Linked DNA regions of Homo sapiens. The protein of the gene in region 4 purifies or fractionates together with the protein of the main gene of each other region. This does not show direct contact. Each region holds a gene or a part of one and is shown on either strand. Other genes may lie near its edges.

Region 1 (9,802 bases), on a different chromosome or scaffold from region 4:
TAAGGTAAGAAGGTTCCTCTCAGCCTCTTCCCTTGCAAACTCAAAAGATACCGTATGTCTATCTTGAGAAGGACATATCTGGGGTCAGCCAGTTAAGCTCAAAGGGAACTCACCAGGTCTACTCTCAAAAATTTCTAAAAGGTTACCAGAAATTACCTTTAAAAGGAAGATATTTCTCATTCCACAAGGCAAGGCTGAAAGGCCCAGCTGAATTTGACAAATGCCTAGTTCAAGTTTTATGTGTACAACTTAAAGCACAAAATCAATCCAGATAGAAATTTATGATTCTCTTCTATTTCAGCAAAGAGGAATACCCACCCCACCCCATACCAAGGAAAACCATGCAGAAAGTTGATGCTACAAGTCAGAACTTCACAACCCTTGGTATTATACCTCTTCAAAAGGGAAAGGTAAATGGAAATAGAACTGAAATACTTCTGTGTTGACACCTCACTTTGTAAAAACCACAAGAATTTAACATAAGTGTCACTGTTTTCCAGGAAACTACTATTCCTGTATTCTAAATGTCAGCTAGCGACTGAATGCAGGATTTCAAAAATCCACGCCATTTACCTAAAGCTTTGCTGAACTTTAGAAGGATAAGACTAAAATAATAACTAAACAATAAAACATCTAAAATACATATTCTATCTATACATACAGCATAATGATAGGAAAGGAGAAAATGGGCCTGATTTGTCATTAAAGCCACTGATATACTTCAGAAGATCTAAAACAAGAAGCTGGCTTTAGTATGTTTTCCATTCATATTATCAGGAATTAGTCCTAACATAAAGGCTTGCTTCAACTTGACAAAATACCGGATGCATGCACAAATCACAAGTATCTGCTACAAAAATTTAACATATTATGGCAAGACAGACTTTCGTATTTACTAGCCATTCTAATCACTTGGAATTTCAGAAAAAAATGTCTGACAACAAATCTCTTCATCAAGAAGTCAAGGCACAAACTAAAACGACTATTTTCACTCTTCATCTGGTAGTAAACATCCAAAAGTGAACTTTAACTTTGTTCAGTTATCACTCTTTAATCAACAAGAACCAGGGTACAGCAGAGCTAGGTTCTTCAGATCCAAAAGAAACAAACTCTCAAATGTTCACCTCAGAGATTAGCAACAGAGAACCAATCACAACGGGCACAATGCTAAAAACAGTATAATCACATTATAATAAACATTATGAAACAACCACAGTTTCAGCCACTTGATTTTGTTCCCCATTCCCAAATGGACCATATATCAAAGTCTGGGATCACTCTTAATGAAAAAATTATTCTGACACTGATGGAGATGTGTACTTTTTATAACGCATTACTCAATTTTTCCATTAACCTCCATTCCGTACTCAAAGGCAGCAAATCAGAAGACATTTCTAAATAAGATATTCCTCCTGTCAAAAATATTAAGTTATGTTTCAATCCCCCCAAATGCCAACAAAAATGTTGCTACCTTCATTTTCACTTCAGAGCAAAATTATACTTCTAACCTAAACAACCACATTCACTCTGTTTTTGAGTCTTAAAAGCTGGCTTTAAACTTAATTAAATTTTGTGCAAACCAAAAGGTATATGGGTGTGGTAGTAAAATCTGATAAAACTGTAGTTTAGATAAAATTATCTTTTCTGTTTAGTTGAAAACATTTAACAATATTCCTTTACTCCATGAACATTTACTATTAAGCACTTGTGGGCCAGACAAAAGATATAAAAGTGGACATCATCAGTCTCTGCATTTTAGGGAGGGACATCTAAAAGCATCTTTTGTGCAACCAACTACTGACACTTGGTTCTTCCTACAACATCTACAGAAGAAAACATACATTCATACAATGACAGAATGGCTCTCTGCAAAATGGAGTAAAAACTATCAACACTGTCACTGGATTCCAGCACCTGGAACACACTGGCCCACAACATCAAGTTTCACACCTAAAGACTGTACTAACAACTCCCAAACTCTCAATACTCAATCATCAAAACATTTGACGTGTCAAAGAAGGTGAAAGAAGCCCAAAGAGTACTGGTATTAGCATGTAACAATACGTTGCAAGTAACCACACAATTATTTCTAAAGCTTCACATTTTTCATCTAACAGATTTGAACATAAAGAAAATGAAAATTATACATTACAATCCATAAGCAAAGTAATCACATTTAATCGAGCATATATAAAAATGTATTCCCTGTTTCATTAAAAATCTGTCCAATAATATATACTAAGCACATCTTCATTGTTTTGTATAAACACGCCAAACATTTCACTTTCTTCATAAATTACCATAACGTTATTTGAACCACCTGTAACAGTTCTTCCCAACTTTTTATACTCTTTGAAAATGTCTGCACACTTTCCACTAAATCCAGAAATCCTCCATTCTTATCAAAACTGCCAAATTTCAAAAACAAGTACAACCAGTCTTGTATTGTAGTTCTATAATTTAAAAAACAAGATTTCCCTATGTGTCCAGACTTGAGGGATTTTTCTCGACTGCAAATGCTCTGAGATGCATTAACAATATACACTAGTTAACAAGGTCCCAGACAATTCTTGTTGCTAAGACTGCATTTTGCAAAAATTACACCATTTCAAACCATTCAAGCAAGAAGCTCTAAAATACTGCAGTCACAAGCCTAGCCTCTCCCTTCAACAAACCTTCAGTTGCCATCACACTTTTTTCCAGTGGGTTATACTGACTCTATTATTGAATAATATAAAACGGTCCCTACCAACTTCTTCAATTTATATTAGGTTATCTCTGAGAATCCTGGAGCCAAGGAGGGTTTTAGGGCCCAGAAATCTCTTAAAGTCTGCAATTCTCAGCATGACACCACGCAGATGAGTAAATGTTTAGCACTTAATACTGAGTAACCCTCACAAGAGCCCCTCAGATTTGTCACTATAAAGCACACGTTGGAGGCACACAAAAAGCCCGTACGTTTACAACCTAGCAGCTAAGCCTGCTGCACTGGCGTCCAACCCCGTCACTAACCTGTAGATCCTCAAAGTCCCTCCCACCACCCAATTCACGTGGCTGCAAACTAATGCAGCCAAGCTTCAGAGAAACTCAATTAACTCTCCATCAAAAGCACCCACCCTCCGCAGCCCACTGGATCTCGTCCTCCTGAAATGCCACAGGATCCTCTCCCGAGGGAGCCGTAAATGTGCTGCTCACAGCAGCCCCTTCCCTACTGGGGGACCAAAGGCCTGGCATCTTACTACAATTCTCAGAGCCTCAGGAGGCGTACTCACCCCACCCCCTCACCTCCTAGCTTCAGACGCCGGCTTCTCAAAACTGCTACACCCTCGAGTAAAGCCCCTCCCCAGCAATGGACCTCGGAGGCATTTCACTGCAAACCCCTCCACCTTCAGGCCACGAAGGCGGCCGGTTGTGACACTTCCTTTCTGAACTCACAGGAGTGTACCGACTACAGCTTCCTCCCCACAGGTGTGACCTGGGTCCCCTTTTGCTGGTAGGCCACAAAGGCCTCCTTTCCATTTCGGGTTGAAGGAGTGTCCTCACTACGATTATCTCCCCACCTCCAGGCACAGAGATGTAGTTATAACCTCTGCTTCACTGGGGGAGACAAGAAATCCTCCGTACTCGGGATGTAGGCGTGTTTTTACTGCAGTCCCCGTTAGCTCGCAGGCCGCTGAGCCAGCCAGCTCTGGCCTGCCCCCTCTCAGACCACGGGGGAGTCCTCGCTATGGCCTCGTCCCCACTTCGGTACGCAGGCTCATCCTCTTGCGTCCTCCTTGCATCCTCTCAGATCTCAGAGGCCTAAGTGGCATCCCACTCCCCCTGCAGCCCTGCCTCGACCCTTTGTGTGGGGCGCTAGTTGCCGCGGGCTCGAAGGCCTCCGAAGGCCCCGCCCCGGGCCACCAAGGGGCACCACGAGCCCCGCACAGCCCCACCCGTTCAGGGGCTGCGGGAGTCTTACCGGGGAAAGCTGCGCGGCACCAGAACCCAGACCCCGAATTACCCCCCGCGCGAGTGCCTCCGCCCCGCGGCCGACAGCCCCAGCCCGAACGGCTTCCCGGAGCCCAACGCAGCCACCACCTCCTTCGCCGCTTCACAAAATGGCCGTCGGCCCGCTCAGCGGCTCCGCGTTCCAGAAGGGGGAGGAACGGCGTGGTTGACGTCAAGGGGCCGCGCAAGCGCGCTGACGGTCTCGGGCGATCTCCCGGAAGTTACTGGGTTTTGTGCTAAGAGGGGGATATTCAGTCCCTGCTTGCGACTGTTGGCGCACAGGACCGACCTTGGGCTAGTGGCCCTGGCGGGTGGGCTGGGTATGAGTGTCTAGCTTGGCCCTTCACTGCAAGACTGTGCAAATTGCTTCACGTCTTCCAGTTTCCGCGGAAGGAGCGAATTGTGCTTACCTCTAAGTTTTTTGAGGATTAAATGGACCACAACGTGGTGGCTAGTTATTATATCCTGACAAAACAGCCAAAACCTGATTCTTTTTTCCCATTTAAGAGTTTATACAGGCCGGGGGCCGGGCGCGGTGGCTCACGCCTGTAATCCCAGCACTTTGGGAGGCCGAGGCGGGCGGATCACGAGGTCGGGAGATCGAGACCATCCTGGCTAACACGGTGAAACCCCGTCTCTTCTAAAAAATACAAAAAATTAGCCGGGCGTGGTGGCGGGCACCTGTAGTCCCAGCTACTCGGGAGGCTGAGGCAGGAGAATAGCGTGAACCTGGGAGGCGGAGCTTGCAGTGAGCCGAGATTGCGCCACTGCACTCCGGCCTGGGCGAAAGAGCAAGACTCCATCTCAAAAAAAAAAAAAAAAAAAAAAAAAGTTTATACAGGCCGAGCGCGGTGGCTCACGCCTATAATCCCAGCACTTTGGGAGTCCGAGAAGGGCGGATCATGAGGTCAGGAGTTCGAGACCGGTCTGGCCAACAAGGCAAAACCCAGCCTCTACTAAAAATACAAAAACTAGCTGGGTGTGGTGGCGGTGCTTGTGGTCCCAGCTACTTGGGAGGCTGAGGCAGGAGAATCGCTTGAACCCGGGAGGTGGAGGTTGCAGTGAGCCCAGATGGCGCCATTGCACTCCACCCTGGATGACAAAAGCGAAACTTCGTCTCAGAAAAAAAAACAAAAAAAGAGTTTTAATCTAGGGCAGGGCGCAGTGGCTCACGCCTGTAATCCCAGCATTTTGGGAAGCCGAGGCGGGCGGATTACCTGAGGTCAGGGGTTCAAGACCAGCATGGCCAACATGGCGAAACCTCGTCTCTACTAAAAATACAAACATTAGCTGGGCGTGCTGGCTGGCGCCTGTGGTCCCAGCTACCAGGGTGGCTGAGGCAGGAGAATCGCCTGAATCCGGGAGGTGGCGGTTACAGTGAGCCAAGATAACGCCATAGCACTCCAGCCTAGGCGACAGAGCAAGATTCCGTCTCAAAAAAAAAAAAAAAATTAAATCCATCGTGACCCCTCCACGGCTTCACTATAGTATTATTTTATTATAGAAAAAGCTATTCTCTGGCTGGGCGTGGTGGCTTACGCCTGTAATCCCAGCACTTTGGGAAGCCGAGGTGGGAGGATCACGAGGTCAGGGGATGGAGACCATCAGGAGAGCGAGACTACATCTCAAAAAAAAAAAAAAAGAAAGCTGTTCTCAAGCCGCTTTGGGCCTAGCCCCCCGAACTTCATGCCCCTGCTAATTAAAAGCTGGATGTGGTGGCTTAAGTCTGTAGTCCTAGCTACTCGGGAGTTAGAGGCAGGAGGATCCCTTGAGCCCAGGAGTCCGAGGCTGCAGTGAGCTATGATTGCATCACTGCACTTTAGCTCAGGTAACAAGAGCAAGACCCTATCACTTAAAAAAAAGAAAAAAAAGGTTGAAATTATCACAATTCCAACAACCTTTCGGGATTTCTATGGCAGACTGGACTGGTGCTAGCCCAGTATGCCAAAAACAGCAAGTTGGAAAACCAGGCCACACTGTTAAACTAAACCTATGCTTTATAGGTTTTTATAGGTTTGCTCTGTGTAGGTAAAACATAGTCCATTAAAAACAAAACCTACTAAATGCAATGTAGCATCCAGGGTTGGATCCTGGAACAGAAAAAAGACAGGAAAACTGGTGAAAGCTGAATAAAATCTGAAGTTTAGGCCGGGCATAGTGCCTCACACCTGTAATCCCAGCATTTTGGGAGGCCAAGAGGCAAGAGGATTGCTTCAAGACCAGCCTGAGCAACACAGGCCCAGTCTCTATAAAAAAATCTTTAATAATTTTAGAAAATCACGTTTCATTAATACTAATATACCAATGTTAACCTCTAAGTTTTGACAAATGTACCATAGTTTTCTTTTGTTGTTTTTTTTTTTTTTTTTTGAGACAGAGTCTCACTCTGTCATCTAGGCTGGAGTGCAGTGGCACAATCTCAGCTAACTGCAACCTCCACCTCCAGGTTCAAGCAATTCTCCTGCCTCAGCCTCCCAAGTAGCTGGGACTACAGGTGCGTGACACCACGCCCGGCTAATTTTTTGTATTTTTAGTAGAGACGGGGGTTTCACCGTGTTAGCCAGGATGGTTTCCATCTCCTGACCTCGTGATCCACCTCCCTCCGCCTCCCAAAGTGCTGGGATTACAGGCATGAGCCACCGCGCCTGGCCTTGTTTTTTGAGACGGAGTCTTGCTCTGTTGCTTAGGCTGGAGTGTGGTGGCACCATCCCGGCTCACTGCCACCTCGGCTCACTGCTACTTCTGCCTCCAGGGTTCAAGCTATTCTTGTGCCTCAGCCTCCCAAGTGGCTGGGATTACAGGCACCCACCACCATGCCCAGCTAATTTTTGTATTTTTAGTAGAGACAGGGTTTCGCCATGTTGGCCAGGCTGGTCTCAAACTCCTGACCTCACGTGATCTGCCTACCTCAGCCTCCCAAAGTTCTGGGATTACAGGCATGAGCCACAGCACCCAGCCTATTGTTGTTTTTGAGACAGGGTCTCACTCTGTCGCTCAGGCTTGAATACAGTGGTGCGATCAAGGCTCACTGCAACCTTGATCTCACGGGCTGAAGCGATCCTCCCACCTCAGCCTCCCAAATAGCTTGGACTACAGGTGGGCACCACCACGCCTAGATAATTTTTGTATTTTTTTGTAGAGTAAAGGTTTTGCCATGTTGCCCAGGCTAGTCTTGAATTCCTGAGCTCAAGCAATCCATCCACCTTCGCCTCCCAAAGTACTGGGATTACAGGTGTGACCCACCACACCCAGCCAAATTAGCATAGTTTTATGTAAGACTTTTTAATTAGAGGAAAACTGGTAATAGATCTACAACTCTACTATCTTTGCAACTTTTCAGTAAATCTAAAATTATTCTAAGTAAAAAAGATATTTTTCAACAAGAAAAATTCTATAATTTCATCTCCTCCTTCCACTGTCCATCTACATTTACCAAACTTTAGCCCAGTGGCTTTCAAACTTTCCTGTCCCCCTGCTACTGGCAAGTATGAAAAGCAATTAAACTTTTTTGACCATTATCCACAATAAGAAATACATTTATAACCTGGTATACAAATTCAAATATATCATCAAAATATATTCTTAAAATATGCATAAATGTACTCTAACATACTATCTCCTTTTTTAAGTACTGGTAACTACCCACCTATGGGTTCAGACCCACAAATGAAAAGCTCTAGTTACAATGGCCTTCTCTTGGTTTCTAAAGTATAATACTTTGTGCTTTATCACACTTCAGGCCCTTAGCTCTTGCCATTCCTTCTCACCTCTCATTTCTAGATTAGCGAGCTCTTCATATTTATAAGCACTACCTCCTCAGAAAAACTTTCCTCAAACACCCAGCATGGTAGGTTTTCCCTGCTATGTCCTCTTACCACTTAATTCTTTCATAGCACTTATCACAATCTATAACATTGTTTATTTGTTTAATTATTTTCCATCTCTCCACTAAAATTTAAAACTCAGTGAGGGCAGGGTCTTTTTTGGTCCTGTTAACCAGTGTATTCCTAATACCCAGAACAAATCTGGCTCCTGGCAGGCATTCAAATAATTCTTAAATGAAGAGATACAAAAGCCCACTGAGTCATTTATGCAAATCAGATGGAGTGGCGGTCTTCTCCACAATTCCCAAGTACAGCTTCCACTTTTCCCTCAACCTCTCATAAAGTCACAGAGTAAATAGAAGGTGAGTTTATTTCTCCAGTCTTGAAATTAACAATTTTCAAGAAAACAAATTATTAGAATAACTGGTGGAGTCACAGACATATTTCTAGCTCCATTAGGTCAAAGGAAAGGAAAGAGGACAAGGGTAGAAAGGAGACAAGCCCTCTAAGAAACTGTCCATTCAGTCTGTCTGCAGTCAATATGAAGAGATAGCCTTTGGAGCTACAGAAAATATTACATTGAAGTGGATTATGCTTGCTGTTAAAGAAGCTGGTCCAGCCGAGCAGCAGCAGAAGACGAAGACTCAAATGTCCATGTAGAGCATCATGGTCCCTGACCAAAGAGACTTCTTCTGGTTCCTCTTGCTCTCCTCACCAAGAGCACAGATGTGCCCAGCAGCAATATGACAGCAAATGTCTCTATGGCTTCGGGATGAAAATGTCCACACACTTTAAGACCCGAGAAGAAATGGGGAGTGCTCCACACCCAAGGAACTGAAGCTAGGGAAAGACAGTTTTCTTGTGTTTCTGTCATAGAGGTGGACTGATGCTGAAGTCAACTGGTCTATACCAATCTAGAGCATCCACTAGGTGTAACAAGGTGTCTGGTTGTGCACGGGTTGGTGAGGCAGGAGGGGCCAGACCAGCACAAAGTCAGGGCCCTATTCTTCTAGTGTTGGGTCCACTTGATGCTCTTGAGGTCAATGCCATCCTGAACCATCTCCCAGAGAGGGCTGCCAAAGAGAAGAGGCATTAAATGAGTGAGGGCTTAGATAGGAAGTCGACAACATTGGCCCCAAGGCTCTGAGCAATGGCTTGCCTCCTTCTGTCCCTGTCTGTCCTCTGCCTCTTGCCCTGGTAGACCCTAACACAGGTGGTTAAGGTATCCTGAGCTCTCCAGCTCCCTGTAAGTCCTTGTCAGCTCTCCTGAGAGCTCTCCCCAACTGCTAACAGGAATAACTAGGTTCCTCAGGCTCAATTGCAGTGGGGCCCTGAGCCAATGGACACCAAACATGGTCATATTCTTGAAGCTTTCATCCCACTGGTAAGAGGCTATGGCCATGGTTTCCCTTGGAGGAACCAAGACCCTTGAGACTTGTATAAACATCTAGTTTAAGCCTCTCTTCATATGACATGTATAAGCAGCTCGTTTCAGCCCACCACATATTACCCGCTTTTCAGCATTTGTTTCTTGGTTTTGTTCTAGTTCCCAGTTAGGGGTGGAACTTAACCCTACATCATCTTGGTATGCTGTACCCTTACCCAGTTCTTGCCCGTTTCATCTCCCCAGAGTTGGCCTGTGCTTCCAATATCCCTGGGTCTAATCCAAAAGAATTCCTTGGATCTTAGACCTGAGCATCCCATCTCACACAAGAGCTGCTGCTAAGAAATCTCTGCTAAGCTCTGATCGATCCCCAAGCAGAAGCTTGGATATCTTGGATAATGTTCCCAGACCAGATATTACTTCAGTGTGCTATGAATATGGGATTTTACAGTTTAGATTTCACCAGGTAATTTTATCAAATTTCATTATATTCTTGACTTGTCCCTCTTCTATATACTAAACATTCCCAGAATGCCTTTCTATTCATGAGATTTTCCATGGCCCTTAAAGTTAGCCATCTCCTTCCTGTCCTTCCTCTTTAGGG
Region 2 (9,111 bases), on a different chromosome or scaffold from region 4:
ATTAGCTCTGGCCTTGCACAAAGTCTGACGACCCCCGAGCCAGGATGTCCCACCCTCAGGCCTCTTACCTGAGGCTCCCACTCTCCTCCGAGCTACTGCCAATGTCCCTCCTCCGTCCACCCCAACCCCGCCACCCACCTGCCTGCCTGCCTGCCTCGAGCTGACCAGCCCCTCTCTGCCGCCTACACTCCCTCCTGTTGTCCCTGGCTCTGAGCACTCCCACGCCACACCGGCTTCCTTCCCTCCACTTCACTCTCTCTCTGCGTTCACGCCCATCTACTGGCTCGTGGGTCCCTACTCTGGAGTCCCAGGCAGGGTCGCACACACCCCGTCACACCCATGTCTCCCCGTGGGTGCTGAAAGGTGATCCCAAATGAGACCCGTCCAAACAGAAGGCCTAGACTTCCCCAAACAAGTCCAGTCCCTCGAGCCGGACCCCACGAGGGCCACAGGCCCTTCCTCCTGTCTGCACCGGCCTGGCTGACCCACCTCCACCTCCAGGGCAGTGCTCTAGCAGCCCCTCCCCATCCCACGTATCCCCACTAACTGAGGCACCTCCACTCTTCCTGGAGAGCAGAAGAGCCTGGCAGACATTCTCCAGCCTCCCTCCCAGTCCTGAGCAGCCGGACTAGCCTCTTCACGGCTGTGAGCCCCCGACCAACACAGACCACACTTCCTGGAACAGTCCGAGACCCACACACCCATCACATAACTGGAAATGTTTCGTGGGACAGATCTTGGCTTGACGATGTGGGATGCACTATTTCAAGTTTTGTTTTCGGTGCTGGTCACCACCCACCAGACTGAGTCCTCCACCTCCAGAAGGCACTGTCAAGGCTCCTAACACAGGCCCAGATGCCTGGTGCAACCTGCAGGCCCTGGCTCTGGCCTTCCTTCTGTGCCTCTTCCAGGCCCCCCTCTGCCTCTCCGATGTTCCCCTCATCTCAGCGCAGAGAGAAGGACAGCACCCTCGGGGGTCACTGTGCGTGTCCCCTCAGAGCCCTGTCCCCAGCACTGATCACCCTCAGGCCCTGAGCCTATGGGGGAGCGGAATAAAAGTTCCCAATTCTAGGCCTGCCCTGGGGCACGAGGCAAGAGGCAGGAAGGGTCCCAGAGCTGCTGCATGGGAGGTGCTAAGGGAAAAAAAGGGCCCAAGTGAGACCAGAGCAAGGGGCCCAGGTGAGGAGAAGCAAAGGGGGATGCCGCGGTCCCTCCTGGCTGGGAGAGAAAGCAGTGGGCGGCCGGGTGCCGGGAGCCGCAGTAGGCGGAGGACAGACTCTAGGCCGTCAGGGGCCGCAGGGAGGGACTCACCCGTGGCGGTCTGTGCCAGCTTTTCCTTGGTCTTGAGCGCGTGCGCCCGCTCTTCCCGCAGCCGGTCCTCGTCGCGCAGCAGGGCCACCAGCTGCTTAGCTTTCTCACGCACGTTCACGCCCTGGTCCTTGCCGTCGCGGTCCACGTACTGGAAGTCCTTCAGCGTCTGCACGGCGTACATGTTCTCCTTGCACTGCTGCGACACGCGCTCCGAGCCGGTCTTGATGAGGTACTCCATCAGCGTCATGGCCTGCGAGCGGGCACGGGGATGCCCGGTCAGCACGCCGGGCACAAGGCGGGCCAGAGACTGCCTGCGACGCGGGCTCTGGGGCGGCCGACTGGGCGCAAGGCCCACAACCCACCTGTCGCCAGTGGGTGGACACACATCTGTCCCCACAGAATACGACACGGCCATGCAAAGGAATGAACACAGACCCACGCTGTGACGGGGACCAGCCGCGGAGGTACTGCGCTCAGCGACAGACGCCAGCACAGAACGCCACACAGCCTACGGTTCCATCGACGTGAATCATCCAGAATGGGCAAATCCAGAGAGACGGAGTGGATTGTGGGTTGCCAGGGGTGGAGGGAGGGATGGAGAGGGACCACCTGAAGGCTATGGGTTTTCCTTCTGGGGCAATGAAGACGTTCTGGAGCTGGACAGAGGTGGTCGCCCAGCACTGTGAATGGGCCGAAGGCCACTGAACTGTGCGATATGAAGGGGGCTGCACAGTGTAGGAGCTCCATCTCAATCCAAATAAAAGAGGAAATGGCAGCTACAGGCACCACAGCCGCCATGGGCATCGCCTGGCATCCTGGAGCCCTGTCTATTTCTTTACAACTAAAATCTAAAGTAACATGGCCAAGAAAACCACATTAGTTAAATCACAATGAAGGGGGTCTTAGTACTAGTTTGAAATGTGTATTTCTGACTGTAAAACCTCACGCTGGTACTAACAGCCTGGAGCAGTAGTTTATCACCTCTGCAAGAAGGGAAGAGATCCACGCAAGGGCCTGTGTAGGCCCGGGCTCTCTTGGGAGGGGCACCCAGGTTCCACACCACCAGGAGCAAAAGGACAGGGCGGAGGGAACATTATCGTTCAATCTGCACCCTTTGGTATGTTTGTATTTTATAATACGAAAACAAACTCCCTTTCAACAAGTTGAAATTAATAGTGGGGGCGGGGGGACCAAGGTCTCTGAGGCTCTCCCTAGCTCAGGCTCAAGTCCTGGGCTTGAGGAGTCATGGCCCCCTTAAGGCTCTGCAGGGGGTGTCTTGGTCACTGACCTCAAAAAAAGGCACAACTTTGATTCTGCAGGGGATTCCAGGGCCTTCACAGAGCCACAGAAACCCACCCAGGGCTCCTAGGGGAAGAGTCAGCTATCACAGCTAAGCTCCGTCTGAACCAAGGAGAAATCTGCCAGGAAAGATGCCAGGGCCATTCATATCTCCTCACCCTCTGAGGCAGCTGGACCTAGCTCTGGCAAGGCCTTTCAAAGGTGTGTTAACAGTATTTACAGTGTAATCAGAGATTAGTCTTTAACCGGCCCTCAAGGTATTTACACGAAAGAAAGGAAAGCAGGTAAGCCATTGCTATGCCTGATCACACCCCAAGCCAAGAGGCAGTCCCAGGTCCACAACTCCTGGGGCCCTTGTGTTTTGGAATTCAGAATTTTCCTGAGTTCAGACCAGGAAAATAACGCACATACAACACATAAGAGAACGCGCTGGGCAGAGTCGTGCCAACAGCCACACTACTGTGGGACCAACAGACACCATGTGAACGACCTCACTTCAGTCTGGGTCAGACTTTGTGCCGAACGGATCATGAAACACTTTCGTTTCCAGAGCTCTCTGGACTTTGGTATCGCAGCTAAAAAGATTGTGAAGCAGGAAATAGTGCGAATACCCACGCACAGTGAAATGCATACATCAACTATGGCACGCTCACACAGCGGGACTACCACATACACTGAAATAAAAGAGAAATGAGGCCAGGTGTGGTGGCTCACGCCTATAATCCCGGCACTATGGGAGGCTGAGGCAGGTGGACCACCCGAGGTCAGGGGTTCGAGACCAGCCTGGCCAACATGATGAAACCTGTTTCTACTAAAAACACAAAACAACTGGCCAGGTGTGGCGGTGCACACCTGTAATCCCAGCTACTCAGGAGGCTGAGGTGGGAGGATCCCGTGGATCAGGGAGGCAGAGGTGATAGTGAGCCAAGAGCACGCCACTGTACTCCAGCCTGGGAGACAGAGTGAGACTCCATTTAAAAATAAATAAATAAGGCCGGGCATGGTGGCTCCCACCTATAATCTTACCATTTTGAGAGGCCAAGGCGGGCAGATCACAAGGTCAGGAGTTTGAGACCAGCCTGGCCAACATGGTGAAACACCATCTCTACTAAAAATACAAAAAATTAGCCAGGCATTGTGGCATGCGCCTGTAATCCCAGCTACTCAGGAGGCTGAGGCAGGAGAATCGCTTGATCTTGGGAGGCAGAGGTTGCAGTGAGCCAAGATAGCACCACTGCACTCCAGCTTGGGCAACAAGAGCGAAACTCCATTTCAAGAAAAAACAAAAAACAGGCTGGGCGCGGTGGCTCACACCTGTAATCCCAGCACTTTGGGAGGCCAAGGCGGGCGGATCACGAGGTCAGAAGTTCGAGACCAGCCTGGCCAATATGGTGAAACCCCATCTCTACTAAAAATACAAAAATTAGCCAGGCGTGGTGGCAAGTACCTGTAATCCCAGCTACTCGGGAGGCTAAGGCAGGAGAATTGCTTGAACCTGGGAGGCAGAAGTTGCAGTGAGCCGAGGTGGTGCCACTGCACTCCAGCCTGGGCAACACAGCGAGACTCCGTCTCATAAATAAATAAATAAGAAACAATAATTAAATAAATATATAAAATCGGGTGCAGTGGCAAAATCCTGTAACCCCAGTGCTTTGAGAGGCTAAAGTCGGTGGATCGCTTGAGTCCAGGAGTTCAAGACCATCGTGGGTGACATGGCAAAACCCCAGCTCTAAAAAAATAAATAAATAAAATAACAAAAAATTAGCTAGGCGTGGTGGCACATGCGTGTCATCCCTGCTACTTGGGAGGCTGTGGCAGGAGGATTGCTTAAGCCCGGGAGGCAGAGGCTACAGTGAGCCGAGAACATGTCAACGCACTCCAGCCTGGGCAACAGTGAGACTTTCTCAAAATAAATGAACAACTGCTTTATGCAACAGCACGGTCAACCTTGCTGACCTGATGGTGATGGTGAGCAAAAGAAGCCAGACACAAAAGACCACGCGTGTGACTCCACATATATAAAGCTCAAGAACAGTCTTGGCAGACAGAAATCAGACACGGTGCTGTGGGAGACAGGTCTCCTGAGGAAACCTGGAAGGCTGAATGCATCCTCTACCTCCCTCTAGGTGAAGGCTACACAGGTGTCCACATGCGTAACAGCTGTGTTATACATTCATGATGTGCTTAGTATACAACTTCTTAATGAAAAATTTAAAACCTTATTTTAGAAGTGAGCAAGTGGGCCAGGTGTAGTGGCTCATGACTATAATCCCAGCCCTTTGGGAAGCCAAGGCAAGAGGATCGCTTGAGCCCAGGAGTTCAAGACCAGCCTGGGCAACACAGTGAGACTGCCATCTCTACAAAAAAATTTAAAATATCTTAAAATTAGCCGGGCATGGTGGTGTGTGCCTGTGGTCCCAGCTATTCCTCAACCATGCTTGGAGCCCAGGAGGTCAAGGCTCAGTGAGCTATGACTGTACTGCTGGATTCCAGCCTGGGCTACAGAGCAACACTTTGTCTCTAAAAAAGTTAAAAAAAAAAAAAGTTTGCAAAATAAGTCATTATTTCTCCTTTGCTTTTCTGAAAACAACCAAAAAGCAGTGGGCAACTGCATAAAATGATAGTCCTTCTTAATGTTAAAGACAGCTTTATCAAGGACATCCTGCAATGCAGAAATAAAGTTTAAAACAGGGATCAGCAAACATTTCTGTAAGGAGCCAGATGAAAAACATTTCAGTTTTTCAGGCCATATACTCTCTGTCTCAACTACTTCACAGCCACAGATGAATGGGCCTGGCTGTGTTCCAATAAAACTTTATTTACAAACACAGGCTGTGAGTGGGATTTCACCAGTGGGCTGTACTTTGCTGACCCCTGGTTTAAAGCCAAGACTGAGACCCTGCATTCCTCAGAAGTGAGGTGGCAGTGCAGGGCCCAGAGGGTGGGCTCGGGGCTCCTCTTGGCTCTACCACCTCCTGCGAGGTAGAGCTGAGCTCCTTTATGTCTCAGTTCCCTCATCTGGAAAACAGAGGAAAAGGAGAAAAAGAACTTCCTTTACAGGGTAACCGTGGATTTCATGAGAACCTGTGTGTGCTACACGTACAAGGTACCAAATAAACGCCGGCCCTTACTCACCAATACTCACCCCCAAGGCCATGCAGGGAGGCCGTGCAGAGCCAGGCCTGCAAGGCCCCCACAGCTCACCCTCCTTCTCCACGGGGACAATAAGGCCCACAAAGTGCCAGCCAGCAGGGCCACAGGGTGGGACAGCCTGGGCTCTGAACAGATGGGCCCAAGCCCCAGCTCCCCCACGAGCCTCGGCAGGCCACCTCCCCCGTCTCTGGGCCTCAGTTTCCCCATCCATCAAAGTGGAAAGACTGCTCCTGCACAACCCACCACCTGGGGCTGAAGTGACAAGATGAGACCATGTGGCGAAGGGATGGTGAGAAGCAAGAGGACTCGCCCTCATGCCAGAACAGGTCAGCACAGAGGGCTCCGGAGAGGGCCAAAGGGGGTGTAGCAGCTTCACAGTGGCTCAGGGCCTCTGGGCCTGTGGGGTTGTCCTCATCACCCGTACTTCCAGAAGGGGACTGCGGGATAGAAGTGGTCAGCCAGGAAGGGAGGCGCTGGCTAGACGTGGACCCAGGGACCCCCTCCTGGACCCCTGCCCTGTGCCTATGCTCAGCTATCGGCGCATGCCGCAGCAGGGACAACAGTGACACGTGCTGACCTCACAAAGCTGCTCTCAGGACAGTGTCCAGCAGGCAGCACAAGCAGCAACCAAAGCAGGTTTCCAGACGCCATCAACCCTCCCCCGGGGAACTGAGGCTGAACCCCACCCCAGCATGAGGAACCAGTGGTTCAGGGTGGAGCGGGAACCCCGTGTCCTCAGCCACATGGGCTGGGGATCCTACAGGCTCTGCTGTGGGGATCATAGAAAGGAGAGTCCCAAGAATCAAGAGATGCTGCAGGGATGGCGGATACAGCAGGAACAGCCAGGCCTGGGGAGAGTCCCAGAGGGGCTGCAAAAACCATAGGGGAGGTCTTGGGGGTGACAAAAACCTTCTATGCCTTGACTGTGATGACAGTTATGAAATATGTGCATCTGTCAGAATCCAGAGAACTCTATCTCGAAAGGCTGGGTTTCACTGTGTGCAAATTACACCTCAGTAAAGCAGCCCAAGCCCCGCCTGGCACTGGAGGCCACGTCCCCTCTCCTGCACTGCCCTGTCCTGCCGTCCACCCTGGCTGCCAGCACCACATGCTCCCCAGCAGACTCTCAGGCCTTGGCACCTGCCAGCCCTGCCCACAGGCCACTCTGTGTCTGCCCCCAGCAGCATCACCCCAGCCACTGACCAGGAAGGATGTGCGTCTGGGGCCCCTCTGGATTCATCCCCTCTGCACACCCACCCCTCCAGCCCCATCCCTCCTCGTTGCCTCCAGAGAGGCTCACCTGCACCTCCAGGGTTTTCCAAGATTCTCAACTAAACAAACGCCACCCAGCCCTTCACAATAAATGACCAATAACTGATTCAATCTATGACTCAACCCAATCCTGGTGTGTCGGGATGGGTATGAAAACGAGTCACAGGAAACGAGCCTCAACCCCTGCTCCCATGTGTAAGTGCTGCAACGCTCCAGGCCTCAGCCTCCTCATCTGTGAGTGGAGGGAACCACCCTCACCTAGGCAGAAGTCTCAAAGATCAGCAAGGACAGGGACCTCCGCCAGAGCAGGCCCAGGTCTAAGCGCATGAGGGTGGGGCCTTGTTGGTCTGGTGCACCAAGACACCCAGAGCGGGCCTTCTGCAGATGCTTGCCGACGGGACCGCAACAGCAGGAGTCTAACACTCACCAGCCCCTGCCCCAAGTCAGACGTGAATCGGCTCCATGGGCCCTCACAGAGGGAGATTCAGGGACGAGCCTGAGATCCCGCCACTGGGAGTATAACCCGGCCCCAGCCCATGTCCTTGGCCACTTTGCCGTAACACGAGGAACACAGTAACCAAAGACCAAAGGTGGGGATGCCAAGGCCCCTGGACCCCAAGAGCAGCAAACTGAAAACCCAGTCGCTGAGTCCTGCTCACAGGCACGACAGCGTTCATCCCCAGCGTGGCATCGCCTGTGCCACGGGGAGCACACACCTGCCTGAGAGGCATTCATAGATGGGGCCCAGAGCGGAAACTTGGCTGCTGTGAGGAAAGGAACTGGGTGTCTGGGCACACAGAAGAGATGGGCACCGTGGGCCCTCTCAGGCCTCCTCAGCACATGAATCTTACGTACGCACCACTCACTCAAAAACAGATTTTAACCACAAGGCTCCAAACTTCTTAGCCTTATATTCGTTGCCTTCATTAAACAAAAAGAGAGATTTTACTCTTCTCCAGTTCCTCTTGAGAACCGGGATGCCATCCCAGGCAGGGTGCACAACACGGGCTCCTGTCCTCCCACCTGAGCCCCTGCACCTGCCCGGGGAGGAGAGCAGGATGCTGACCTTGTAAACGTGACGCCAGTTCTTGCCATGGTCATTGAGCCGCTTCCAGATCATGCTCATGATCTCCGAGAAGGCGACAACGTTGTAGGTGAGGTCGGCAATCTCTGACATGAGGGAGCTGGATGGGCCCCAGGGGTCATTGCTCGTGGCCTCTCGAACCTTGATCTCCGCCTCTGAGTAGTTGTGGACGATGTTCTTCATCTGGCGCCTCAAGGACGAGGTCGACATGGTGCCCGGCTGCAGCAGCAAGGGGCACAGGGCCCCGATGCGTGGAGAGATGGGGCGACTCCCGGACGAAGGCTGCGGCAGGTGCTGGCAGGTCACCGCATCTGCGAGGGGAAGAGGACCTCTGGAAACACAAATGGGACATGGCCTGCCCAGAGCCCTCAGGGTCAAAGATGAGTTCCTAACTGTGGCCCAGAAGGCTCTGTCCCTTGTTAACCTCTAGGTCTCAAAGTAACCCCATCCATGTTTCAGTTCCTCAAACAGGCTGCCTCCTTCCTGCTGGGGCCCCTGCTCAGTGAGGCAGAGTATATGCAGTGGCAGATCGCAGCCCCACAACCTGGCTCAGCACTTCCTGGCAAGGCCACCCTGGGCGGGCTGGATCTTTTGCACCTCAGCTTTCTCTTCTGTCAAATGGGGCTCCATGCGGTCATCTAGAGAACTGACGCCCTGTAAACACCGGCAGCGCATCAGGAGGCCCTCCGTCCTGCCCATGCGCTCTTCCTTCTTCCTCATCCAGGGATATCCACTCACCCCAAGGGCTCTGCTTACACTTCCCAGGTGCACACCCAAACATCACAGTCACCTATCCCTGGGGCCTCATCAGTAAACTCAGTCTCCCTCATGATTTTATATTCTCGTCTGATTCTGTAGCTAAGGTCAACCCACAGGCCCCATGGGGGCAGAGAACATGTCTGTCTGCATGTGGCTTTTCCCAGCAAAGAAGCTGGCCCAGAAAAACCATTCAGTAAACCATGCAAGGAGGAAGTGGAGAGGGAGGGCAGGAA
Region 3 (8,419 bases), on a different chromosome or scaffold from region 4:
TTTAATTAGCTGGGTGTGGTGGCACATGCCTGTGGTCCCAGCTACTCAGGAGGCTGAGGTGGGAAGATCACTTGAGCCCAGGTGGCCGAGGATGCAGTGAGCTGAGATCGTGCCACTGCACTCCAGCCTGGGTGACAGAGCAAGACCCTGTCTCCAAAAATAGAGAAGGAGGAGGAGGAAAAGGAGGAGAAGGAGAAAAAGAGGAAGAAGAAGAAGAGGAAATAGGGTGGGTATTTTATTCCCCAAACACCTCCTGCCACACAGAGGTAATCATTTCTACTAATGCTGCAGTCCCTGGGATGTAGTCTGGGAACGGCAGACCCCTATGGTTTCAGATTATCCCAAAGCTAAGAGAGAGATTGACGCCATCAAACTGAAGGTGGAGGCATGGGCAGGAAGCCTGTGGCTAAGAGACAGACATCATAAAGATGGGCTCTAAGTTAAAGAAACTGGGCTCCTCTAAATCTGGGCCTTTATCCTATGGAGTTGCCGGAGATCAGATTTACCAGCATCTGAGTTTTTATTTATTTATTTTTTTAATAGAGACAGGGTCTCATTGTATTGCCCAGGCTGTCCTTGAACTCCTGGGCTCAAGCAATCCTTCCACCTCAGCCTCCCAAAGTGCTGGGATTATAGGTGTGAGCCACCGTGCCCAGCCTCAAATGGGTTTTTAAAGTTTTATTGCCAAGGAAATGTTGATGGCCTACAAACAGGAGCCTAGGATCCCTGGCCTCAACAGAAGTGTTCAGGTGCCCCTCCACACACCTCCTGTAACCATGCCCACAGGAAGAGGCTGCCACTTCACCCCCAGGCAGGTCAGCCATGGAACGCGCTGCTGCAAAGCAGGACCAGAGGCTCCCAGACTGGCTCACTCGGAAACCCACTCCTCCACTAGCAAGAGAAAGGATACCCTTTAAACCAGTGACCACTGTATGTAGTTTTCCCTTCTCCTCTTTCTCAAGTGGCAATTTGTAACCTACAGTGCCTCAGTTTCCTCAACTGTAAAGCGGAGGATATTTGTATTTACCACATGGGATTCATGTGAGGATTAAATAATTTAAATAAAAAATGCTTAGAATAATTCCTGGGAAAAAAAAAAGTGCTCAGTTAGATTTGGGTGTCGCTCTGCTAGGTCAGCCATCCTCCTTCTCCTCCATCAGTGTGTCCTGAGTGTGTAGAAAATGGTTGTCCATTTATTTCATTTTTCTTGAGTTGGGGTCTTGCACTGTCTGCCCAGGCTGGAGTGCAGTGGTGCAATCAGATCTCACTGCAGCCCCAAACTCCTGGGCCCAAGCAATCCTCCTGCCTCAGCCTCCCAAGTAGCTGGGACTAGAGGCATGCACCACTGTATCGGCTAATTTCTTTTATTTCTATTTTTTGTAGAGACAGGATTTCACTGTTGCCCAGGCTGGTCTCAAATTCCTGGCCCCAAGCAATCCTCCCACCTCAGGCTCCCAAGTCACTTCACCCATTTCCTCCCAGTCCTGGCACAGCCCTGCATACGTAACTGATACATAGAACTTAGATAACAAAAAGTGACTGAAAACTACTTTATTTGAAGACATTTTCTTCTATAGTTCTAAACACAAAAGGAATGCTGTTATAGTGGGTATTTCATAGGCATTCTTGTATTCAAATGAATCACATAATGTTTACACTTTTAAGCTAGACTTGAAATTGAAGACTTAATACAACCTTTTAACAAAGAAAGTATCAGTCATATCAAAACATAACTATTCATTCTACAGATTATCACTTTCCCTAAAATGACTACTAGATATGAAAACATTGCAGGGACAGCTCAAGTGCCCCATTCTTAAGGGTTTTTTTTAATAGGAAAAATGACAACGTAAATCACATTTTCCTTTTCTTTACTAGTAATGAACTATGGCAATCCATTTGAGAAAGCACCAGCCAACCGTACAAGTCATTTCAGCACCCTTTGCTCTTCAAAACTGACCATCTTTTATATTTAATGCTTCCTGTATGAATAAAAATGGTTATGTCAAGTACAGACGTCAGCAACGTGTCAGTTGGTGTGAATTTATGATGTGTTCCTAAGTCAACAGAGAAAATAAAAAAAATCTCTCATGTGAATAAAATCTAAGGATGAAAAACTATCCTTTGATAATTATCACAAGGCAAAATCAACCACCTTTTCATCAGTACTAGTGTGGAATGGAAATTTCTTTATTAATACTTTTTATGGGAATGTTTTAAAGGCATAGGTATAAATGCACATGCAATCAGCTTGCCCCTCTTAGATACTAACTTCCCCAGCTTCACTCCTCCTTTTCACTGGAACAAGCTGCTGAATCCCTAACTCCAAAGTCTGCAGTGCTTGGTGAGCATTTTTAAATAAAGATTATATGTGATTTTCACTTTTTCACAAAAATGAAGTACAGAGAAGACTGAAAAGCAGTGAGAAAAAAATCATAGAGCAAAAAACTAAAACACAAGATGTGATGTTCAAATTTAAAAGAAAAACAAAACTGGTTCGTGATGATTGTTAGTAAATCACAAAAACAAAGGACGGACAGGGCCAAGACCGAAGGGACCACCAGACCACCGAGCCCCAATGTGCCAGACAAAAGTGGGCATCTTTGAGAAGGACGCCCTGGTGAAGACAATTACAGTGAACCTCTTTATAAGGCCGTAAGCTCTTCAAGGTCATGGGCCGTGACTTATTTATGTCTGTATTCTGTTCTTAGCATTGTCTTGCACATGACAGACACTCAGTATTTCTGGTAACCACAGAACTGGAGCTCAATCAGCTCACTGCTTTCAAAGTCATTTTGGTTGGTGTCTACCCACTTAATTCTTTCACTCCTCTGTCTAAGGCAGGGATGGCAAATAGCCTTCATTTCACTCTGATGGACTGGGAATAGATGTCTGGAAGCACCAATCTGACATGGATTCTAAGACCAAATCCTGGCACAGAGGACAGGAATGCTGCACTCATTCATAATGCCTCCTTAAAAGAGCGGTGGCACAGGTGTTATATATTCCCCATTCCTGGTCTAGGAAAAAGGCATCCAACACCTACTTATATTCCTTTTACATTGCTATGCTGCCTCTTGAGTGATCTGCATTAAGCCACTGTTCGTTAAATGCTGGTTGATCAGGAAGACCAAGGCCTTTCCTCTCAATTTACGTCTTTGGCCAAACAGGTAGGGTCAGAACTTCACCTGGAAATCTGAAAACACATCATCCACAATGCTCAATAGGCAACAGTCCATTGAAAGAGAACAGGTATTTACTTGATTACTCCCTTTGTAGAGAAAGAATTTTGCCCATCTCAATGGTGTGTAGCTTTCATTGATATCTAAGGCATTTGGAATTACTTAGGATCTTGGTGTTAAAAAAAAAAAAATGGCAGGGTTAAATTCTCTTTGGTTCTCATTCTAATCTTAAGACTTCTGTTTGTTTCTTCCTGGTACCCATAACCTTCTCAGCACTTCGTCGTTGTGACTTAACCAATACTGTTGAAATAATCAACTCTTTCACACATTCATCAGAAAACCTTTTAAAGGATGCTAAGGGGAGAGGCCTCTGAAAATAAGTGGGTTGAAAGGAAAGCCAGAGAGAATAACAGGAAGAACCAACCTTCTAACAACCCACACACAGGACTCTCTACCATTCAGACTGCTATCTATAAAATAGGGTGCTTCTGGTCGGGGGGCTGCCACCCCAGGTCCTCCAAGCAACCCTTTTCCCCATAGTGGGAGGTCAGCATCCCTCAGAAGCATCTCAGGAAAAAATGATAAAGCATTTAGAGAATTGGGAAGAAAATAGAGGGATACTATCAAAGAGTAAAGGACAGTCCTGGGGGATGAAGGGGGATTTTCTTTTTTCTTTTTTTTTTTTTGGAGACAGAGTCTTGCACTGTCGCCCAGGCTGGAGTGCAATGGCACAATCTCGGCTCACTGCAACCTCCGCCTGAAGGGAGATTTTCAAAGCAACATTGCCTCTATCATAGGTAGTCTTCAATGTAATACTGGCACCAACAAGAGAACCGAGCTAAATTAAAACTACCCTCAAAATGTCATCACAGCTGATGTGCACAGCAGGAAGGACGATGTCACAAAATGCACAGATCTGTTCCTATTGCACATTCCACCTTTCCCACGTACTGCTGGCAGCCCAGAATAACCAAAATCTTTTTAGATGTCTGTCTTAAAGAGAGCTATAATATGCAAACATACACACACACACACACACACACCCCCACACACACACACAACCTCAAACCTGGTTTATAAAAGAGCTTTGTGGATCAGAGTACACCCTCACTTGGTCCAAGAATCTAATTGTCAACATTAGGCAAATAGACCCAATGAATGTAACCAGGAAGAGAATTAACTGGTTGGCTGGAATATTGTATTTGATATGATATGCTTATTTGCAAACTAATCTCCAACTGTTTGTCCAGTACTAATTCAACTGACTCATCTTCTAAATGTATAGGACAAAGCCTTTAAAAAGTTAAGCTCTTCAGCAACGAAAAGTTAACACCATCTAAAATAAATAGATTTTAAAATATATGTAATGAAATTACAGGTCACTGGAAATTCAATTCTACAATGAATATAAATTAACATTAAAATCTATTAAGTACTATTCCTGGGAAGATTTTGGTTCAGAGGTTTTATTTTTTTAAGGGCTTAATATTTGGGAATAAATGGGCATAGCTTAGAAACCCTTACAAAGTTGTAAGTAGACTAGAGGTAAGATTATTTGGTGACAAGATACAAAGATCTGTTTCTATGTCCAAAATAATGGCTTACCTCATTTTAGTTAATAGAAGTATTCCCAAAAAGTTGTGCAAATAGGCTTTTTATAACTGGACGCTTATTTTAAGTATACTAGAGGCCATGGTTGTAAAGAAAACCTGTAGTCACTCCTCTAATAAACTGAAGAACTCTAAGTGATTAGCCCCTGTCCTACATCTGCACAGTGGACGGCATACTCCAGGCACTCATAAGTGTTTGTTGAATGCATGAATTCGCTCTGACAGTTTTTTTTTTCCCCTACAGGACTTTCTTAAAGTGAGGCACATGCTAACTGAAATGGTTCTGCCCGCTGTTACTGCAGAAAGATGGAATCCAGCTCACAGTTTAACTGATGCCATTACAAAATATCAGATAATTTCAGAGTGTTTTCAATCAAAATAAAATTTCCATAAGTATGAGTGTATGTATTTTTGAGGAATGTTGATCTATGATTGGCAGAAGCTTTTATTGTTAACTCACTCACTGAAAACAACTGCTTGAGCTGAATTCTATTTCAATTAACAACCAAGGCAAGTAAAGCACTTTACCTAACTTCAGAAATACCACCAGAAACCATTCCACTTCTGTAACAGCTTCTTCCCCTCACTCCAGCACAAATATTTAAATGCTGTCCTTACCTTAGTCCACAAAAGCAAAACATGAATTACAAAGCTAAGATTAAATTAGAAAGCTGCCGACTTAAATATGACAAAGTTTTTTTAGCCTTAAAATAAGAACTAAGTCAAATACATTCAACAAAAGTAACTCTTAAAGGCAAATTTTTTTCTTATTTGGTGTTTTCTTCCCTTCCCATTTAAATTTAAGACTCAATTTTTAATAATATTCATATGTCCATTTTTCTAAATAATATATCCTCTTTAAAACAATACAGAATGCCTAGCAGTGCAACCTATGTGTCCACATAAATATGCAACCTGCCACATAAATAAAATAAGAGGTTTTATCAGTCTATTTATCCAGCATTTGTAACTGCAAAAAAGGCTGGAAAAATAGCTAAGAATATTTTTATGCAAGTTTTGGGGAGGACTGAACACTGGTAAGGATTCACTGTAGGGCTCCATCATTATAAGTTTCCTAAAAAGTAGTGTGCAAACAAAATATCTGAACACAGAACCCTAAACATACTAGATGTATGTGTGGGTATGGGTGATGGAGAAGAGAGAATGAATATGTTAATATGAATGCTTGTCAAGGACACTGATAAGAAAAAGAAAACCTCTCACTTAAGGTGCTAATGATATGTCAAGGGACCTAAATACAACAGATTTTAAAATCATCTTTACCATTTGTCCCAATTATTGACTTTGGCCCTTTACCACACAGACACAATGAATCTACATTTTGATGATCCGTCATTGGCCCAAGAGTATCATGTTTGGAGATGGATTTGCTCCCATAATTTAAAAATCAATAATTTAAAAAATAACAAAGTTGGTCTCTTTTTTCCACCAGTTTTCAAGTAATTAGTTCAAGTAAGCTTATTTACAGCTGCTACTGTATATATGTGACCTACTTTAACCCTTCTTTACCCTTTAGGAATTGGTCTCCCTTGGAATGGGACACCACATTTTAAAAAAAACTTGAACCAGGTTTTTTTCATCTACCAATTCAATTCAGTCATGTTTCTGCTTTATTGGGCAGATAAAGAGAAGAAACCAGCAAGTTATGTCCAAAAGCTGGAAAACGCCGAAATGCTTCCCAACTATCTGAAAAGATGTTGTACTTGAGGAACACTCGGTGTTCCAAGCTGGTCGACAGGGTGACGTCTCTGCTCATGATGTAGATGCCGTCGTTATGGAGCGCACAAGTCAAGTTAAGACCCGATTTGGACGTGTTCTCCTTGAGGTAGAGCCACTGGCGGGTGACGGTGTTGTAGGACTGCACGGTGAGCATGTCCTCGCTCTGGCTGCTCCTGCGGTTGGGCCCCAGCTCGTGGAGACACCCCCCCACGATGTAGATGGTCTCTTCCACAGACACCATCTGCTGCTTGCGAATGTGGACGTCACATGTTTCAAAGAGCGTCCACATGTCGGAAGAGGGGCAGTACTGCAAAATGTTCATGTTCCGGTCTGAAAGAAAGAAAGACAAGTGATGACACCGCCTCCACTAACACCACTAGGCAAGTCTGTACAGAAATGTCTACCTCTGCCTGCATAATTTGGTAACAAAGAGAAAAAACTCTTTCAGAAAAAGCACAAGTTAGAAAAACAGTTTTCAAAGTGGCTGGGAAGAGATATATTTAGATCCATCCGCACTCACCTCCCACTCCCAAACGTCTCTTCCGTGGGAGACTCAGACTGGATAAAACCAGGAAAAAGCGCAGCTCTGACTTTCACACAGCCCCTCCTCCCTGGTATCCCCACACCTTTGAACCACCAGGTCAGTGTAAAAAAAGTAAGTGCCTCAGAACCCTCATCAATAGCTACAAAATTACCGACTACTTAATACAGAAGCCAGGCTGGGCAGCAAGTAGATTATTCTTGATAGCTGATCCTAAGAAACATGACAAGTAGCAACACAGGATCTCCAGAGGCTGTCTAGTGAAAAGGACACAACGTTACAAGTCAGGAGAAAGGCAGCAAAGTCTCACCTGCGGCCTTCTAACAAGCCACAGAACCACTTGGCAATTCAGTTTCCAGTTTTTTTTTTGTTTTTTTTTAAAGACAGGATCTTTACCATGCCTAGCCTTAGTTTCCCCATTATATCACCAGAGAGACACTAACAAAGGTCCTCCCCTCTCCCTTTTCCCATTTCCCATGTCCCTCACAAGATGACAGTTGTAGCGTAGATAAGATCAACGTCTAGATAAAAGGTTGCTCTGACATTTTTAATTAATAATGATTTTCGGCCAAGCATGGTGTCTCATGCCTGTAATCCCAACTCTTTGGGTGGGCTGAAGCAGGAGGATCACTTGAGCCTAGGGGTTCGAGACCAGCCTGGGCAATATGGTGAGACCTCCTGTCTCTAAAAAAAATAAAAAATTAGCCAGGCATGGTGGTGTGCACCTATGGTACCAGCTGCTACTTGGAAGGCTGAGGTGGGAGGATCACTTTAGCATGGTAGGGTGAGGCTGCAGTGAGCTGTGATCATGTCACTGCATTCCAGCCAGGGTGACAGAGTGAGATCCTGTTCTCTCAAAAAAAAAAGTAATTTTCTTTAAGGAAAAATATGGCCTCGTCTCTTTTTGAAAAACGCTTGTGAAATTTAGAATATCTAGTTTTGTTTTTCTTGTTTTTAATTGTTCTCTTTTCTTTTCTCCTCTAGGAAAGAATAAACAAGTATTTTAGCCTCAGCAGAAAAAACAAATGCTCTGAGTTATAAACAGAATGAACTTTGTTGTTGTTTCTAAACAAACAAATCCTATCCATGAAGGAGACAGCTCAGCTTGGGAACTGGCAGACGACTAAAGCCTACAGCATTTTGACGGCTGCAGGCGCTTGGTAAGAGAAGACAGCTCGTTTTCTCAGAAGTTTCATACCTCTTACAGTCCTTTCTTCTGAGAGGGACCCACTCATAGTTAGCAATGCTTAAAGAGCACCCTCCACAGCCACATCTGATACAAACTGAAGTATCTCCTAAGAGAGCCAAGTCCTGTGCGCGCACATGTCCTGATGCCTGGAGAAATC
Region 4 (3,807 bases):
CGCTGCGGCTACCTCGAGTGCTCCGCCAAGTACAACTGGCACGTGCTGCGTCTCTTCCGCGAGCTGCTGCGCTGCGCTCTGGTGCGCGCGCGCCCTGCACACCCGGCCCTGCGCCTGCAGGGGGCGCTGCATCCCGCGCGCTGCAGCCTCATGTGACCCGATCGGACAGTGCCATCCATGGGCCCCACCTTGTGACTGGGACAATCAGGGACCTGGATTGGACGGGATCGCCCAACTTCACTGGGACTGGACAGGGAAGTCTCCGCCCTGATTGGATGAGGAAAGCTCCAACCCAGTCTCCTAAGCGACTGGCCCCCTTTTGAACCTCATTGGACCCAACCAGGTCCCAAGCTCCATTGGAGATGACCAGTCCTTTCTGGGACCTCAATGGGTCACAATCCCATTGGATGGAAAGGACTTGGCTATGAACTTGACTGGAAACACGCAGCCTGCTCCTGGAGCTTCACTGGACATATTCTTTATGCCACACCTACCACGGGATAATAAAAGGGAAAATAATTTGAGTGCGCCTGGGATTTCTGGGCTGGGCGGGATAACGCCTTAAGCCTAGAGGTCAGAGTTGCCAGGCTTGGCCTCCAGGCAGTTAACTCCAGGGTCCTCGAAAGGGTCTGAATGGCCCCAAGGTGGAGTCCCCAAGAAACAGACAGGTGGCTGGAGCAAAACTTTACTGTCAGAGGCTCTGCTGGGCCACAGGTCTTCAGAACACCGGGCTCGCCCGGCCTCCTCTAAGGCATTCAATAATATTAGTAATTAAATAGCAACGCTCATCCCCCAACCGGAATGTACAACAGAGGTCCCATTGTGCCATGTGGTCCCAAGGGGTCTGGTCCCATGAGGTCTGGTACTCAAGAGGCAGAGGGGGCTCCCTGATGCAGAAGGGTTAAGGCCACAAAGGAAAAGGAGAAGGGATGGGGTCTGGGGACAGCTGAGCTGGTCCATCACATCCAGGAATCTGGCTCAGCCCTCGGGGTGACTGAGTGCAGGGCATGCCATGTCCCCAGCTCTGCGGGTCCGGAGGGGCGGCGGGGGCCCCGAGGCGTGGGGATACGTGAGGGTTTACGGTCTGGCTGTGTGTCCATCCGACCCCGTGCCCAGGTCCTCGAGGGTTCAGTGCAAGCCAGGGGGCTCCCAGGTGCATCTAGTGGCCCCCCCATGCCAGGGCAGGGGCTGCCTTCATCGGAGGAGCTGGAAAGGGCTTGGCTTCGGGGCCCAGGCAGCCCATTGGCCGTCCGGCCAGAGTCCCCAGGTTGGCCACATTTGCCACCCAGGACGCTGAGGGACGAAGAGGAGGAACTGGAGGAACAATAGGCAGAGTCAGGAGCTGGAGGGTCGGGGGCCCGAGCTGGGTCAGGGGCTGGTCCAGTGGGGGTCACGCTAGCAACAGCCTCAAGGGCCCGGGCATTGGCCAGGAACTCCTCTTCCAGGCGCCGGAACAGCTGCTGCTCCTGCTGCGGGTCGAGCTGCAGGGGTGTGCGGAAGATGCTGGCCGGTGTGGTGCCCAACTCTGGACTGGGGCTGGAGACCCGGGAAAGCCGGGGTGCTGCAGGGCTGCGGGCACGGGGAGTCTGGGGGGTGCTCCTGCCCGAGCCCCCACTGCCCCTGCCCCTTGGCACCCATGAGTGCTGCCCGTCTCGATCCCTGCGCACAAGCAGCACAGCCTGCTCCTCGCGGCTCTGGCTCCGGGCCCGCCGGGCAGGGCTGGGGACCGACAGCTGGGCTCCCCTGCCTCCTGGGGCCCCCCGGGGCCGGCCGCGATCCAGCCGGTCTCGGGACTGGCTGCGCAGGGCAGGAGGCCGTCTCGGAGAGGCCGGGGTGCCTGTGGTCAGCCGCCGGCTGGGTCGCTCCCTCCGGGGGCCAGTGCCTGTGTCATCACTGCGGGTACCAAGGGGGCCGCTCTGGGCGGAGGAGGCTGAGGAGTCACTGTCCCCGGAGTAGCGGCGGGAGCGGGGATGGGGGGGCAGCTGATCCCGGGGCCTGGGGCAGGGGGACAATAGAGACAGATGGGGTACCACGGAAGGACTGGCATGCAGAACAGGCAGGGAGAGGAACAGCAGGGTATGTGGCTGGTGGACGGGGCTGTCAGGGGCATCGGTCTGTCCTGGGGACTTCCAGGGAGAAGTGAGCAGCTTCCTCCAGCGGCCCAGGGCCCCAAAAGCCACGGAAGAAGAAGTTTCCTGGGCTCTAGACACCCCCCTTCCCAGGACGGGCCAGAGGAAGCAAGAGCTGGACTGGCTGCCGCCCAGCCACAGGGCCCGCCCCAGCTGTGTTGTTGGTTTGGTTGGGTTGCCATGGAGATGGGAAGCCAGGCCCGCCCCCACCCACGGGAACTTTTCCCAGGGTGTGAGTCACTCTGGCGCACAGGCAACCCATCATGCAGGCCAGGGCTGACGCCCCCCCACCCTCTGGACCCCTCACTCCTCGTCCTCCTGCATCTCACCTGGGTGGGGTCTCGGGCCCCTCCTTTGTGCTTCGTAAGCTAACGGGAGTCATCTCAGGCCGGGAGCCCCGGCGCTCACTCCCAGGGACTGGGCTAGCAGGGCGGGGACTGGTGGTGGGCGACACCCTCTGTGGAGAAAAGGTGCAGACCCTCGGCTGGGGTGGGCGATGAGCTGCGGGGAGAGAGGACAGGCAGCATGTGAGGGACAGAGCCACAGAAGCAAGTCCCCTGCCCGTCCAGCCCCAGCCCCACCCTGGCACTGACCAGTGGAGGAGCAGCGGCACGGGTCGTGCTTGTCCAGGTAATGCTCCAGCGTGTCCCAGCCACCACCCACTCGCACCATCACGTGGCTCCTCAGCACCTGCAGGTGTGGGCAGGTCACGGCTGTGCCCCGGGCGCCCCGCAGCCCACCACCTTGGCTGCTGCCCGCTGGGGCGGCCCCAGGCCCTTACCCGCACAAAGATGAGCAGGCTCGAGTCCCCCACACGGTACTTCCCCTCTGAGACCTTGATCATGGGAAACTGGTCAGGGCAGGTGCAGCGGCCCAGAATCTCCCTCACCTGAGGCCAGAGAGAGAGGGTAGGGGTCAGAGGTCAAGTCCTCCTCCTGGGGCTTAATGTCAGCCATTCCAGGGTCAGGAGGAAGTCAGGCTTTCCGGGTAAGTGGATGGAGGCAGTGTTGCCCCGGATGGGGTACAGCTTCCACACGTGACCTTTCTTTTATTTTTTTTATTTTTTTTTATTTTTTTTTTTTTTTGAGTTGGAGTTTTGCTCTTGTTGCCCAGGCTGGAGTGCAATAGCACGATCTCGTCTCACCGCAACCTCCGCCTTCCAGGTTCAAGCAATTCTCCTGCCTCAGCCTCCTGAGTGGCTGGGATTACAGGCATGCACCACCACTCCCGGCTAATTTTGTATTTTTAGTAGAGATGGGGTTTCTCCATGTTGGTCAGGCTCAGGAGTTCCACCCGCCTCGGCCTCCCAAATTGCTGGATTACAGGTGCGAGCCACCACGCCCGGCCCACACATGACCTTTCACCGGCTCCCCTTTCTTGGCTCTCTGGGTCCAGGGAGCTGCCCAGGATGAGATGATGGGACTGTGGTCAGGCCATGGTCTGAGACCCGGTGACGAACATCCCACAGCCCCTAGACCTGGGGAAGGCCCAGAGCCCGTCCTCACTCCCGCTTCACCCACTTCTCAGACAAGAAGGCTGGGGCCCACAGGAAGGCCAGGCAGGCTACAGGACACAGGTGCAGGGGGCCCCATGCCCCTGGGTGGGCACTGATGTGGAGGCGTACCACAGACACATCGGACACATGCACACACAGACCACTGGCCGGGTGAGCACGCAC

Evidence for each region.
Region 1: the proteins of GAS2L1 (region 4) and RBM12 purify together in Homo sapiens (affinity purification with mass spectrometry; 3 studies listed by BioGRID and IntAct, with this or other methods). This does not show direct contact.
Region 2: the proteins of GAS2L1 (region 4) and EPN1 purify together in Homo sapiens (affinity purification with mass spectrometry; 3 studies listed by BioGRID and IntAct, with this or other methods). This does not show direct contact.
Region 3: the proteins of GAS2L1 (region 4) and KLHL42 purify together in Homo sapiens (affinity purification with mass spectrometry; 3 studies listed by BioGRID and IntAct, with this or other methods). This does not show direct contact.

Annotation. Positions count from the first base shown.
Region 1 is NC_000020.11:35,660,799-35,670,600, forward strand, and holds the start of RBM12 (RNA-binding protein 12), read right to left. Parts: upstream 4,103-9,802; 5' UTR 3,962-4,102; intron 1-3,961. Other genes in the region: NFS1 (cysteine desulfurase isoform a precursor), read right to left, coding at 8,824-8,887.
Region 2 is NC_000019.10:55,677,846-55,686,956, reverse strand, and holds part of EPN1 (epsin-1), read right to left. Parts: intron 8,431-9,111; coding exon of another isoform or gene 8,330-8,430; coding exon 8,102-8,329; intron 1,562-8,101; coding exon 1,312-1,561; intron 1-1,311. UniProt on the Homo sapiens protein: Binds to membranes enriched in phosphatidylinositol 4,5-bisphosphate (PtdIns(4,5)P2). Modifies membrane curvature and facilitates the formation of clathrin-coated invaginations. Regulates receptor-mediated endocytosis.
Region 3 is NC_000012.12:27,796,158-27,804,576, reverse strand, and holds the end of KLHL42 (kelch-like protein 42), read right to left. Parts: intron 7,331-8,419; coding exon of another isoform or gene 7,287-7,330; exon of another isoform or gene 6,863-7,286; coding exon 6,411-6,862; 3' UTR 1,537-6,410; downstream 1-1,536. UniProt on the Homo sapiens protein: Substrate-specific adapter of a BCR (BTB-CUL3-RBX1) E3 ubiquitin-protein ligase complex required for mitotic progression and cytokinesis. The BCR(KLHL42) E3 ubiquitin ligase complex mediates the ubiquitination and subsequent degradation of KATNA1.
Region 4 is NC_000022.11:29,309,650-29,313,456, reverse strand, and holds the end of GAS2L1 (GAS2-like protein 1), read right to left. Parts: intron 3,019-3,807; coding exon 2,911-3,018; intron 2,820-2,910; coding exon 2,723-2,819; intron 2,631-2,722; coding exon 2,459-2,630; intron 1,996-2,458; coding exon 960-1,995; 3' UTR 670-959; downstream 1-669. Other genes in the region: RASL10A (ras-like protein family member 10A), read left to right, coding at 1-156. UniProt on the Homo sapiens protein: Involved in the cross-linking of microtubules and microfilaments. Regulates microtubule dynamics and stability by interacting with microtubule plus-end tracking proteins, such as MAPRE1, to regulate microtubule growth along actin stress fibers.